Linked DNA regions of Homo sapiens: region 2 is linked to region 1. Evidence: fine-mapped expression QTL. Tissue or cell type: prefrontal cortex. Region 1 holds a variant in brackets; the other region holds the start of a gene. All regions are shown on one strand. Distances are between the middles of the regions. Region 1 overlaps EXOC6 (exocyst complex component 6). Region 2 holds the start of CYP26C1 (cytochrome P450 family 26 subfamily C member 1).

What was found. PIP is the estimated chance that this variant, and not a neighbour inherited with it, causes the effect.
Region 2: it holds the start of CYP26C1, and the variant in region 1 is the best candidate, but not a certain one, in a credible set for the expression of CYP26C1 in prefrontal cortex (BrainSeq, PIP 0.58).

What each region holds. Positions count from the first base shown.
Region 1 is chr10:93,035,576-93,040,949 of GRCh38, forward strand. All of the region lies in intron 20 of EXOC6 (exocyst complex component 6), which reads left to right. Among named protein-coding and RNA genes, the nearest start is that of CYP26C1, 23 kb to the right of the region's middle. RefSeq lists a silencer at 4,197-4,491. The variant T/A (reference allele first, on the strand shown) is at 2,897.
Region 2 is chr10:93,058,277-93,063,650 of GRCh38, forward strand. CYP26C1 (cytochrome P450 family 26 subfamily C member 1) reads left to right here and starts at 2,522. Exons shown (of 6, transcript NM_183374.3): 1 at 2,522-3,191; 2 at 3,734-3,958; 3 at 4,444-4,719. The coding sequence starts at 2,988. It overlaps EXOC6 (exocyst complex component 6), which reads left to right. Exons shown (of 22, transcript NM_019053.6): 22 at 1-1,214. The coding sequence ends at 79. RefSeq lists enhancers at 2,540-3,449, 4,403-4,522, 4,533-4,702.

The DNA.
Region 1 (5,374 bases):
CTGTCGTGGTGGCTCACGCCTGTAATCCCAACACTTAGGGAGGTTGAGGTGAGCGGATCACTTGAGGCCAGGAGCTCTAGACCAGCTTGGCCAACATGGCAAAACCCCGTCTCTACTAAAAATACAAAAATTAGACGAGTGCATTGGCATATGCTTGTAATCCCCACTAGTTGGGAGGTTGAGACATGAGAATTGCTTGAACCTGGCCTGCGGAGGTTGCAGTGAGCCAAGATCTTGCCACTGCACTCCAGCCTGGATGACAGATCAAGACTCTGTCTCCAGAAAAACAGAAACGAAAACACAGGAAGTAGATATTGTATGTTCACTGTTAAACTAAAATCAAACCTAAAAAGAAAGCTCTCAGGCCGGGCACGGTGGCTCACACCTGTAATCCCAGCACTTTGGGAGGCCGAGGCGGGCAGATCACCGAAGGTCGGGAGTTCAAGACCAGCCTGACCAACATGGAGAAACCCCATCTCTACTAAAAATACAAAACATTAGGCATGATGGCGCATGCCTGTAATGTCAGCTACTTGGGAGGCAGAGGCAGGAGAATCACTTGAGCCTGGGAGGTGGAGGTTGCAGTGAGCCGAGATCACACCATTGCACTCCAGCCTGGGCAACAAGAGTGAAACTCCATCTCAAAAAAAAAAAAGAAAAAAAAGAGAAAGCTCTTATTTTCCCCTCCTCTTCAGTCTTTCACAGTCATTATTTCCCTCCAGACCTTTGTAGTGTACATTCGAACATGTATACATGCAGATACTTACATGCACACATGTAGTTATTTCCTTTTTGGGGGAGGTATGTTATAATTCACATTTTTCATGCAACATATGCTTTCATATTGGTAAATATGGATGTTTCATTCTTTTTAATTTCTTTGTACTGTCTATAGTGTACATATACCATAATTTATTAAACAAGTCCTCATTTGTTGGACATTATGGATTCTTTAGTTTTGTCTATCTATTAATGAAGCTGCCATTAATATATTTATACATATATATCGAGCACTTGTGTAAGTATTTCTGTAGGCCTTTAGAAGTGGAATTACTGGGTACTGCTGAAAAAGCTCTCCAAAAAAGTATATAAATCAGAATTATTTTTAAAAGAGATACGTAACTTGGCAATATGACAATAAATAAAGCTAACAGATTTATGGAAAAAATTAAGTCATTTAAGTTTGCAGTTGGGCAAATACAGAATATTTCTTATTTACAATATAAGCATTATTGTAATATGATACATTTTAAGGTAAATTTTCAGTGAGTTACACAAGGATTAAATCTTTGTTTCCACAGACTGTGCATAATGTAAAAAGAGACAGTCCCAGATTTACCTGTTTTCAATTATCAATATTCCTGCTCTTTTTTTCACTGAAAGGGATAGGTTAAAATTTTTAGAACAGTTTGTCAACTATGGAGGGTAGTGATATTCTGGCCTTTGATAAATATCATATATGCAGTAAACTAATGATTAACTATTAACATTGGCATTACTCAACAAGGAGCTATATCTTTTCTCTCAAAATTAATTCACATTTTTGCCAAACTTCCTTTCTTCTTCTACTTTTTTTTTTTTTTTTTGGAGACAGGGTTTCTCTGTCGCCCAGGCTGGAGTGCAGTGGTGTGATCATGGCACATTGCAGCCTCAACCTCCCCAGGCTCAGGTGATCCACCTCAGCCTCCGGAGTAGCTGGGACTACAGGTGCATGCCACCACACCCAGCTGATTTTTGTATTTTTTGTAGAGGCAGAGTCTTGCCATGTTGCCCAGATTGTTCTGAAACTCCTGGCCTCAAGCGATCCACCTCAGCCACCCAATGTGCGGGGATTAATAGGGCCACTACATCCAGCCCTATTATTCTCCATTTTTTTTTTTTGAAATGGAGTTTCTCTCTTGTTGCCTAGGCTGGAGCATAGTGGTGTGATCTCAGTTCACTGCAGCCTCTGCCTCTCAGGTTCAAGCGATTCTCCTGCCTCAGCCTCCTGAGTAGCTGGGATTACAGGCACGTGCCACCACACCCAGCTAGTTTTTCTATGTTTAGTAGAGGCAGGGTTTCGCCATTTTGGCCAGGCTGGTCTCAAACTCCTGACATCAGGTGATCCGCCTGCCTTAGCCTCCCAAAGTGCTGGGATTACAGGTGTGAGCCACCGCACCTGGCTATTACTCATTTTTAAGAAATATTTTTCTCGGGCCGGGTGCGGTGGCTCACGCCTGTGATCCCAGCACTTTGGGAGGCCGAGGTGGGCGGATCACGAGGTCCGGAGATCGAGACCACGGTGAAACCCCGTCTCTACTAAAAATACAAAAAAATTAGCCGGGCGCGGTGGCGGGCGCCCGTAATCCCAGCTGCTCGGAAGGTGGAGGCAGGAGAATGGCGTGAACCCGGGAGGCGGAGCTTGCAGTGAGCCGAGATCGCGCCACTGCACTCCAGCCTGGGCTACAGAGCGAGACTCCGTCTCCAAAAAAAAAAAAAAAAAAAAAAAAAATTTTTCTCTAATAAATTTTTTTTGTTGACTGGAAATTTTTTTTTTTGTTACAGGTTTCTTTCAGTTTGGAGGATAGTTATGGGAAGTTTAAATATTTAAATGCTTTGTTAGAAAAACAGTAAATGCACTGTTTGTTTTACATACTAGTGGATATTATAACCACAATTCCTATTTTCAGTTATGATCTTTTTGCTACATAAAATAATATTCCCTAGACAACCTATACTGTATTTGCCATATCAAGTGTGAATCTGACAACAGAGTTCTAAAAAAATCCTACTAAGCATTCTTTTTGAAAGCAGATTGGCTACACATACAAATAAAAAGAAATGTTTGTGTAAATTAAGCCATCCTAGTCTAATTGTTTAAGCAGTTAATTTATAAATTGAAGAAATTATCTTCTAA[T/A]CCTATTTTACATATAAATTTGAACATGACACGTAATTTCCCTGAAAGTCAACTTCTACTTTTATAGAGAACAGCCAGCACTCTACTTGAATGAGACGTATATATACATGACAGAGTTCTAGACTCAAGCAATATTGATTCAACAATATTGAGCTTTCCAGTGGTTTAAATTAGAAGCTTTTTCATGTATAATCTCTGCTTTTCCTTCATGGCTGTTTTGTCCCAGAAGAGACACAGTTCTTAAACTTTTGCTTCTTAAAGTGTTCTATGAAATATAATTTAGCTCAGTTCAACAAGCTTTGAGTACCCTAAAGGGAGAAGAGCTATTACCTCTACCCTTGAAGAACTCAAAATTTGATTAGAAAGTGAAAACAAACATACAAAGGAAAAGTAAGTATATGTACACACTCCGCACTTTAGGAAGTTATCAATGGCCCATAGAGCCACCTATCTTCTAATTTAGATGGTGCAGAGAACTCAACGCTGCCAACACTTTGCTAGCACTTCAAAGGGATGTATTCTTCCACCTATATATGTATATATATATATACCATCTATTAAAAAAGGCCGGTCATGGTGGCTCATGCCTGTAATCCCAGCACTTTGGGAGACCAAAAGGTCAATAGTGACCTCTTCAGAGCCAAGTGGATAATAGTTGTCATGAAAATTTTTACTAATATACACCAAAAGGCTGATATTGCTGAAGGTATTTTTTTTATTTGAGACTACCATTTATAGCATTATTCTCTAAACTTCCTCTTAGATATGCATTGCAGTGCTTAGTACTCATAGTTAAGTCACTGTTTAGTCCCTAGAGTATTTTGCAATGTATATTTCTCTCCTTTTCTTTGAACCCATTTGTGTTTTCGTAAATGTCAGAACATCTACCAATTACCTTCAAATTGTGATTCAGTGATTTTCATGGTCATAAAATCCTAAGACTTGAGGATTGGAAGGGACTTCCAAAAATCTAACCCCTGGCTCCAAACCTCTTAGAAGCTCTCCCCAGCAAGTGCCCTTGCTGCTGCTCCAGATATCTGGACATTCACCCCATCCAAATAGAGGCTTCTCTTCCCTTTTGAAAATCTCAGGGCAGCCTCCACCATTTCTCTCTGAGACTTGGTCAGACACTGCTGTTTCTGTTACTTCTCAGTCACACATCCTTCATCTGAGAAGATTAAAATAAAATTTGATTATTCAATGAAATTAAGTAGTTTCCACTTCCTTACTCTACTCCTTCTCACCTTCCAACTTTTTTCCTGTTTCATTCACTCCTTGTTTTGTCTACTCATCTTTTCACTTCTTCTGGCCCACTTATTCTATGCCACCTGAAAACCCTCATTGCAATGTAAATGGCCCTACTGCTTCAACTGTGTGGCAGAATGCTTTCTTCACCTCCTTTTCATAGAATTCGGAGGATACTGCTAACCCTGCAGCTCTCTCTAGTGGCAGGATGCATTCTTTCATGGCTACACGTGTGAATGAGATTCGTGTTCCCCTGGTTCCTCATTTCTATTTGTAGACCATTGTTCCTCCACTCTTGAGTGAAAGCTCCAGCCCCTCTGAGCCTCTTGTCTTCCATCTCTATCACCATCAACCTCTCACTGTTGCTTTTGCAGTCAGCTTATCTATATCCACACCCATTCTTCCTGTCCTTCATTCTCAGGTGTTAGGAAGCCTTTTTAATGAGGCTCTCATCTTCCTATGCCCTTGACCCTATCTTTTGTATGGGATTTTGTTTCATTTTGTTTCATTATTCATCTGCCTTTCCTCTGCTTTATCCTTTTCTTTTTTTTGAGACGGAGTCTCACTTGTTGCCCAGGCTGGAGTGCAGTGGCGTGATCTCGGCTCACTGCAAGCTCCGCCTCCCAGGTTCACGCCATTCTCCTGCCTCAGGCTCCCAAGTAGCTGGGACTACAGGTGCCTGCCACCACCCTGGCTAATTTTTTGTATTTTTAGTAGAGGCGGGGTTTCACTGTGTTAGCCAGGATGGTCTTGATCTCCTGACCTCGTGATCCACCTGCCTTGGCCTCCCAAAGTGCTGGGATTACAGGCGTGAGCCACTGCGCCCGGCCTGCTTTATCGTTTTCTTAGCCTAAAAACATTTTAGCTATTTCCAATTTCTCTTCCCTCATTTGCATCCTTAAAAGAGTGGTTTATAATTGATTATTCTTATTTTCACATCTCTCATTCATTTCTCAATCCATTCCTATCTGCTTTGCCACACTGCTGAAATAGTGTTCACTTAGGTCACCAGGGAAGGCCAGTAGACATTTTTAGCCCATATCCTATTGGTTCTTTCTGCTGCATTTGGTAATGTGGATCATGTTCTCTTTAAAATTCTCTCGTCTTCTGAGTCTGTACTCCCTTAACATCCTTCCTCTTTCTTTTCTGTGGTCTCCTTTTCTGCCCCCTAAATGTTGGTTTCCCCAAGGTTTCTGTCCTTAGAACACTGCTCCCTATACTCCTGACCTAGGT
Region 2 (5,374 bases), 23 kb after region 1:
TCGAGACAAACAGAAGTTGATAGAGACAGTCGTGAAACAGCTGAGAAGTTTGGTGAATGGTATGTCCCAGCACATGTAGACCTCACATGGCTTGCACTCAGTGACACCAAATCCATGATTCAATGTTGATCTTGAGCAAGTATTGGTCATGATACAGTAATTTGTTTACAGAATCCAAAAATACAATAGAGAAGATACATGAGGGCTTAAACAAGAAATAGTAATAAATATCATTTGTATGGATTTTTAAATAATCGAATACTATTTTATATATGGAAAAAAATGACCATTTTTTCACTTTTAGGGGAAAATGCAAAAGTGTAATACATAAATTGTCACAAATTATACATGAAATTGATTACAAATACATTTGAAAAACATATGCCTCTACTCATAAGTATTTTTTTCTATTTAGACTTGAATGATAATCTGTTTTTTGATCAGTATATGGCTTTGGAATTCAATCATGTCTGATATGGTAGTATTTCACTACCATTTTCTGACTTTTAGCTTTTATTTTCACCTCAATGTGATTTAAGCAGACCAAAATTTCTAATTCTGCTAATTCTGAAGGGGAAATAGACAAATCTTAAAAGCTGCCTGAAATCAAACTTGATTTAACTCAGTAAGAATGTGAATTATTTGTTCTACTTGGGTGGTTTAATTTAATCGTTCTGAATATGAACAAAAGGTTTTGGATTTTCTAAAGATGCAGTGTTGTTTCTGTTCATCAGGGTTAATATTTCTAACTATATTGCTTGTAGGTGACCCCATTCTGGATTTGTTTGGTTTGGTTTGGTTCCAGTTAAAAGAGAGGACAGGAACTAAATGGGGCTAACCACTTCAGGTGCAGCTTGTGCGAGGGTAGATGGTTCCTGCACACAGAAGTTACCACAGGGGTCAGGTTACTTTCTTCAAATAGCAGATTTCAGTACTTTATCCTCATTGTGGAAACAAGCCAAACCAAATGAACTCTGGAAAACCTAAAACAAATGTACATTTTCCTTTGTGTATGTTTCCGTGGTCCAAATGGCAATATAAATCCAGTCTTTATTCTCCCTTTGTTGTATTTATGCTGAATCTTCCCTTTGCCTTTTCAGGATTTAGGCCTGTAAGAAACTATGCCTGATTCTGTAAAATAAGTGTAAAGAATTATATGTACATCTCTGGATTTTGTGATGAAATATTAAAAATATTGAGCAAGTTGTTGAAAATGCATTACTATTTTGTCTATTCAGAGCTTACTGATTTAAAACAAGTGCTTCCTGGAGAAAAGGCATATTATTTCCTAGTTACTGGAATGGGAGTGGCACCAAAACAGTATATATACATACACACACACACACACACACATATATATACATATGCGCACTTGTTCTCTCGATCATCTCTTAATCCAAAGTATTTAATGTTTTTAAAAATATTACATGAAAAGCATGGTAGTTCTTCAGGCACGGTGAAATCTGGAGGAGAGGAGCGGTGAACAGCTAGCTCTCTTTGAAGACTGGAATGGGGCTGCCCTTCGCGCCTTACCCAGCCTTCCAGCGTACTTGGGGTGTCTTCCCTGCTTTGGCTGAGACGTCCCGGGATTCAGAGAGATACTGCCTTTGCACTGCCTGGAGGAGACCACTGTGGGACCTCTTTACTCTTACCAATAATATAAACACCCTGCACCCCTCCACACACACCCCAGGTTGCACTGTAGGGACAAGAACGAGTGAGTCCTGAGGCATTTGGAACCCTTGAATGGGACGCACAAAGCCCAAAACGCAACAATGTAGATTGACAAGAGTCGTCGGGCAAACTCGGGGGAGGGAGGGAAGGATGTGCAGGGAAGGATGAATTCGGTCCTTGAGACCGGAAAGGTGCTCGTGGGTATCCGCTTCTGGAGGCTTAGGACGTCTTTATGAAGCCTAGGGCAGTAGTGGAACTGCCATCTTTGGAAGGATACCTGACGTGGTAGATCAGAGAGCCGGGAGAGGTGGGGAGCTGTCGGAGAATCTCGGCTGCGCTATCCCTCCTGGGCTTTTGCGATGCCAACGCAGGCGTCGACGACTGCAGTTTCCCTGAAATAGTCGGAGCAAAGGAGAGAAAAGCCCAGTTCTTTCACCTTGGAGTGGCGAGAGAAAGGCACCTAGAAGCTCGAGGGCGGGGACGGCAGAGGGAGCCAGCGGCCGGGGGTGGGCCAGGAGCACTGCGGGGCGCAAGCCCGGGTCAGTTCTGCGCGTTGGGTTCGCCCACTTTCTGAGCGCCTGCGAAGAGCGGGGAAGCTCTGGCGCGAACCCGCAGGCCCCGCCCGAGGACGCTCGCGGGGCGAGCCCCCAGCCCAGCTCGAGCCGCCCCGGCGCCTGCCACTCCCTACTCAGAGCCCCTCCGTGAGCGCGCCGCTGCCCACCGCCTCCAATCACCACTCTGCGTGGAGCGCTTTAAATATGCAAAGACACGTCACGTTGTGTGAACCGGGATCGGTCCGTAGGGGGGGAGCCAATATCTATATAAACGTGTCCAGCGTGGGCCAAGAAGGGTTAAACGACTGGAGGAGGGACAGGTGGGGCGGGGGTCTGCAGACCAGGTTGGCAACACTGGTGAGTTGCTCTTCTTTCGCCCTCCTTCCCTTCTTCTATCCAAAGGGTGCTGAGCCCGGGAGGAGGTGGGAGGTGCCCCGCGGAGCCGGGAGTGAGCGTTCCCGAGGCAGCAGGCACCTTCGAGAGGGACTGGCATTTGGGCCCAGGAGCCAGGAAAAAGTCCTGAGCGTGCCGGCCTCGAGGAAGGCACGTTCCCTAAGGGCGCACGGTCACTGCAGTCTTTCACCGTCCGTCTGTTTTTAGAACAGAGTTCTGGCCTGAGCTTATAAATCTCGGGCTTTGCCCCCAAACCCCAGGCCTTTTGCGGACGGAACAGGTGAGCACTGCGCACTGCTCGCGCCCCGGTTCTTGCGTCCCCTGCTCTCCCTGCGCTCTGAGCGGCCTGGCCCCCGCGGGCTCATCATGTTCCCTTGGGGGCTGAGCTGCCTGTCAGTGCTGGGGGCGGCGGGCACTGCTCTCCTGTGCGCGGGCCTGCTGCTCAGCCTGGCCCAGCACCTCTGGACCCTCCGCTGGATGCTGAGCCGGGACCGGGCCTCCACCCTGCCTCTGCCCAAGGGCTCCATGGGGTGGCCCTTCTTCGGCGAAACGCTGCACTGGTTAGTTCAGGTGAGCAGTCCTTCGACCCCGAGCGCTAATACGGTCCCTTCTTCCCCCGGCTCCCACTGGACCCTCCTCAGTCTCAATGCCCATGGGATTTGTAGCCAGTCCCTGCCCATCGCCCACGACCCCGGGAAGCGCGCACAACTCTCGCCTTTACCTAGATACTCCGTTCCCTCGAAGGGACCTCAAGTCACTGGAATTCCCCCCAGAGCAACTCCCAGACACAACGCAGGGGGTAAACATAAGGGGTTTTAGGAAGGGGTCTGAGGAGCACGTCCTGCAAGGGTAGAAAAGGAGCCTGGAGCTTGGCCCAGCTGTGAGCCCTTGGGCCCTCACTTCTTCACTCTGAGTCTGTTTCCTCATCTCACCAATAGGAACAGGAGCATGTACATTCCCGTAGAGTAGATACCAGGCCCACTGGGGATCTTGTTTTGTAAACGCGCCAGCCAGGGACAGGAAGTTGTGATCAAAAGGCAGCTGGAAGGTCTGGGTCAGATCCCAGCCCAGGCCCAGAAGTTCCAGCTCTCCACCCTCCGCCTCGCCCGCAGGGCTCGCGCTTCCACAGTTCTCGCCGAGAGCGCTATGGGACAGTGTTCAAGACGCACCTGCTGGGCAGGCCAGTGATCCGCGTGAGCGGCGCGGAGAACGTGCGCACCATCCTGCTGGGCGAGCACCGCCTGGTGCGCAGCCAGTGGCCGCAGAGTGCGCACATCCTGCTGGGCTCGCACACACTGCTAGGTGCGGTCGGCGAGCCGCACCGGCGGCGGCGCAAGGTGAGTGGAAACGGGAATGGACCGTAGATACGTCGGATCCGCGGTCCCCGGCATCTGCCATGGGCCAGGCCGGGGCCCCGGTGTTGGATACACTGTGAACCCGACCAAGGTCCCTGGTAACTAGCGGGTGGCCTTGGGCGGGTCCGTTACCTTCAGCTTCGGTTTATAAAGTTAGGACTGCGCTAAAAGATTCTTTCATCTCCCATCTTCCGTGGCTGTGATAGCAGAAGCGCTGGAGACTCAGACCTAGAAAGGGGCCAGGGAAGACTTCTTAGAGGAGATGGCAGCTGGAGCCTGGATGGTTGGGAGGGACTGTGTGCATCAGAGCAGAACTGGGGGAAATGGCGAAAGCAAAAGCCAGGAAGTTTAGGTCTGGGCCGCTTGGAAGAGGGAGAAAGGACCGGAACTGGCCTTCTGGCTACTCCGGAATCGCCAAGCAGATGAGGCCAGACCGCCGCCAGCGCTGATCACGCGCGCTCCCACAGGTCCTGGCGCGCGTGTTCAGCCGCGCCGCGCTGGAGCGCTACGTGCCGCGCCTGCAGGGGGCGCTGCGGCATGAGGTGCGCTCCTGGTGCGCGGCGGGCGGGCCGGTCTCAGTCTACGACGCCTCCAAAGCGCTCACCTTCCGCATGGCCGCGCGCATCCTGCTGGGGTTGCGGCTGGACGAGGCGCAGTGCGCCACGCTGGCCCGGACCTTCGAGCAGCTCGTGGAGAACCTCTTCTCACTGCCTCTGGACGTTCCCTTCAGTGGCCTACGCAAGGTACGGCCGCCCCGGCTCCAGACCTTCCTCCGAGGCTCCGCGGCGCGGGCGGGCCTCCCAGACCCAGACGGGACGCCCTCGGCGCACCCCGCGCGTCCGTCACCTCTGCTGGGAACGGCGGCAGGGCCCGGGGGTGGGAGGCGTTGTGGCGGTGGCGTGGCGGTGGGCTCTGGGCCTGGCCTCTGTGCTGGTTCGCTGGTGTGACCTGGGGCTGGCCACACGACCTCCGTGGGACGCGCCTGCCGCGACGCGCTCCAGCCTGAGCAAGCGCGGGCCGCCAGAGTTTGGGGTCTCGGTGGCAGGCGTCCTGCCAGTCGGTCGGACTCCTTCCCACAGCGGCGCCCCTGGGGCCGGCCTCCATCACCTCTTCGGAAGCCCAGATGGCTGCGGAACCGAGGAGAGCGTGAGGGCTGCAGATGAGCCCCGGTCCAGCCCAGCGCCAGCCCCGGACCCAGGGGTGTGGGCGTCAGCTCCACCAGCCCTGGACCCGCTAGGTTTCGGGATCAGAGAACTGCTGCTTCTCCAGACTTCAGAACAATGGGCAGGACCCGGAGAGCAGCTAGGATGCCCCATCCCGCCTTTTGGTCCCCCTATTCTGGGACTTCCCACTGTTTGATTCCCTGGTTTTCAGTCACCTGCATAAAAATAATATGTG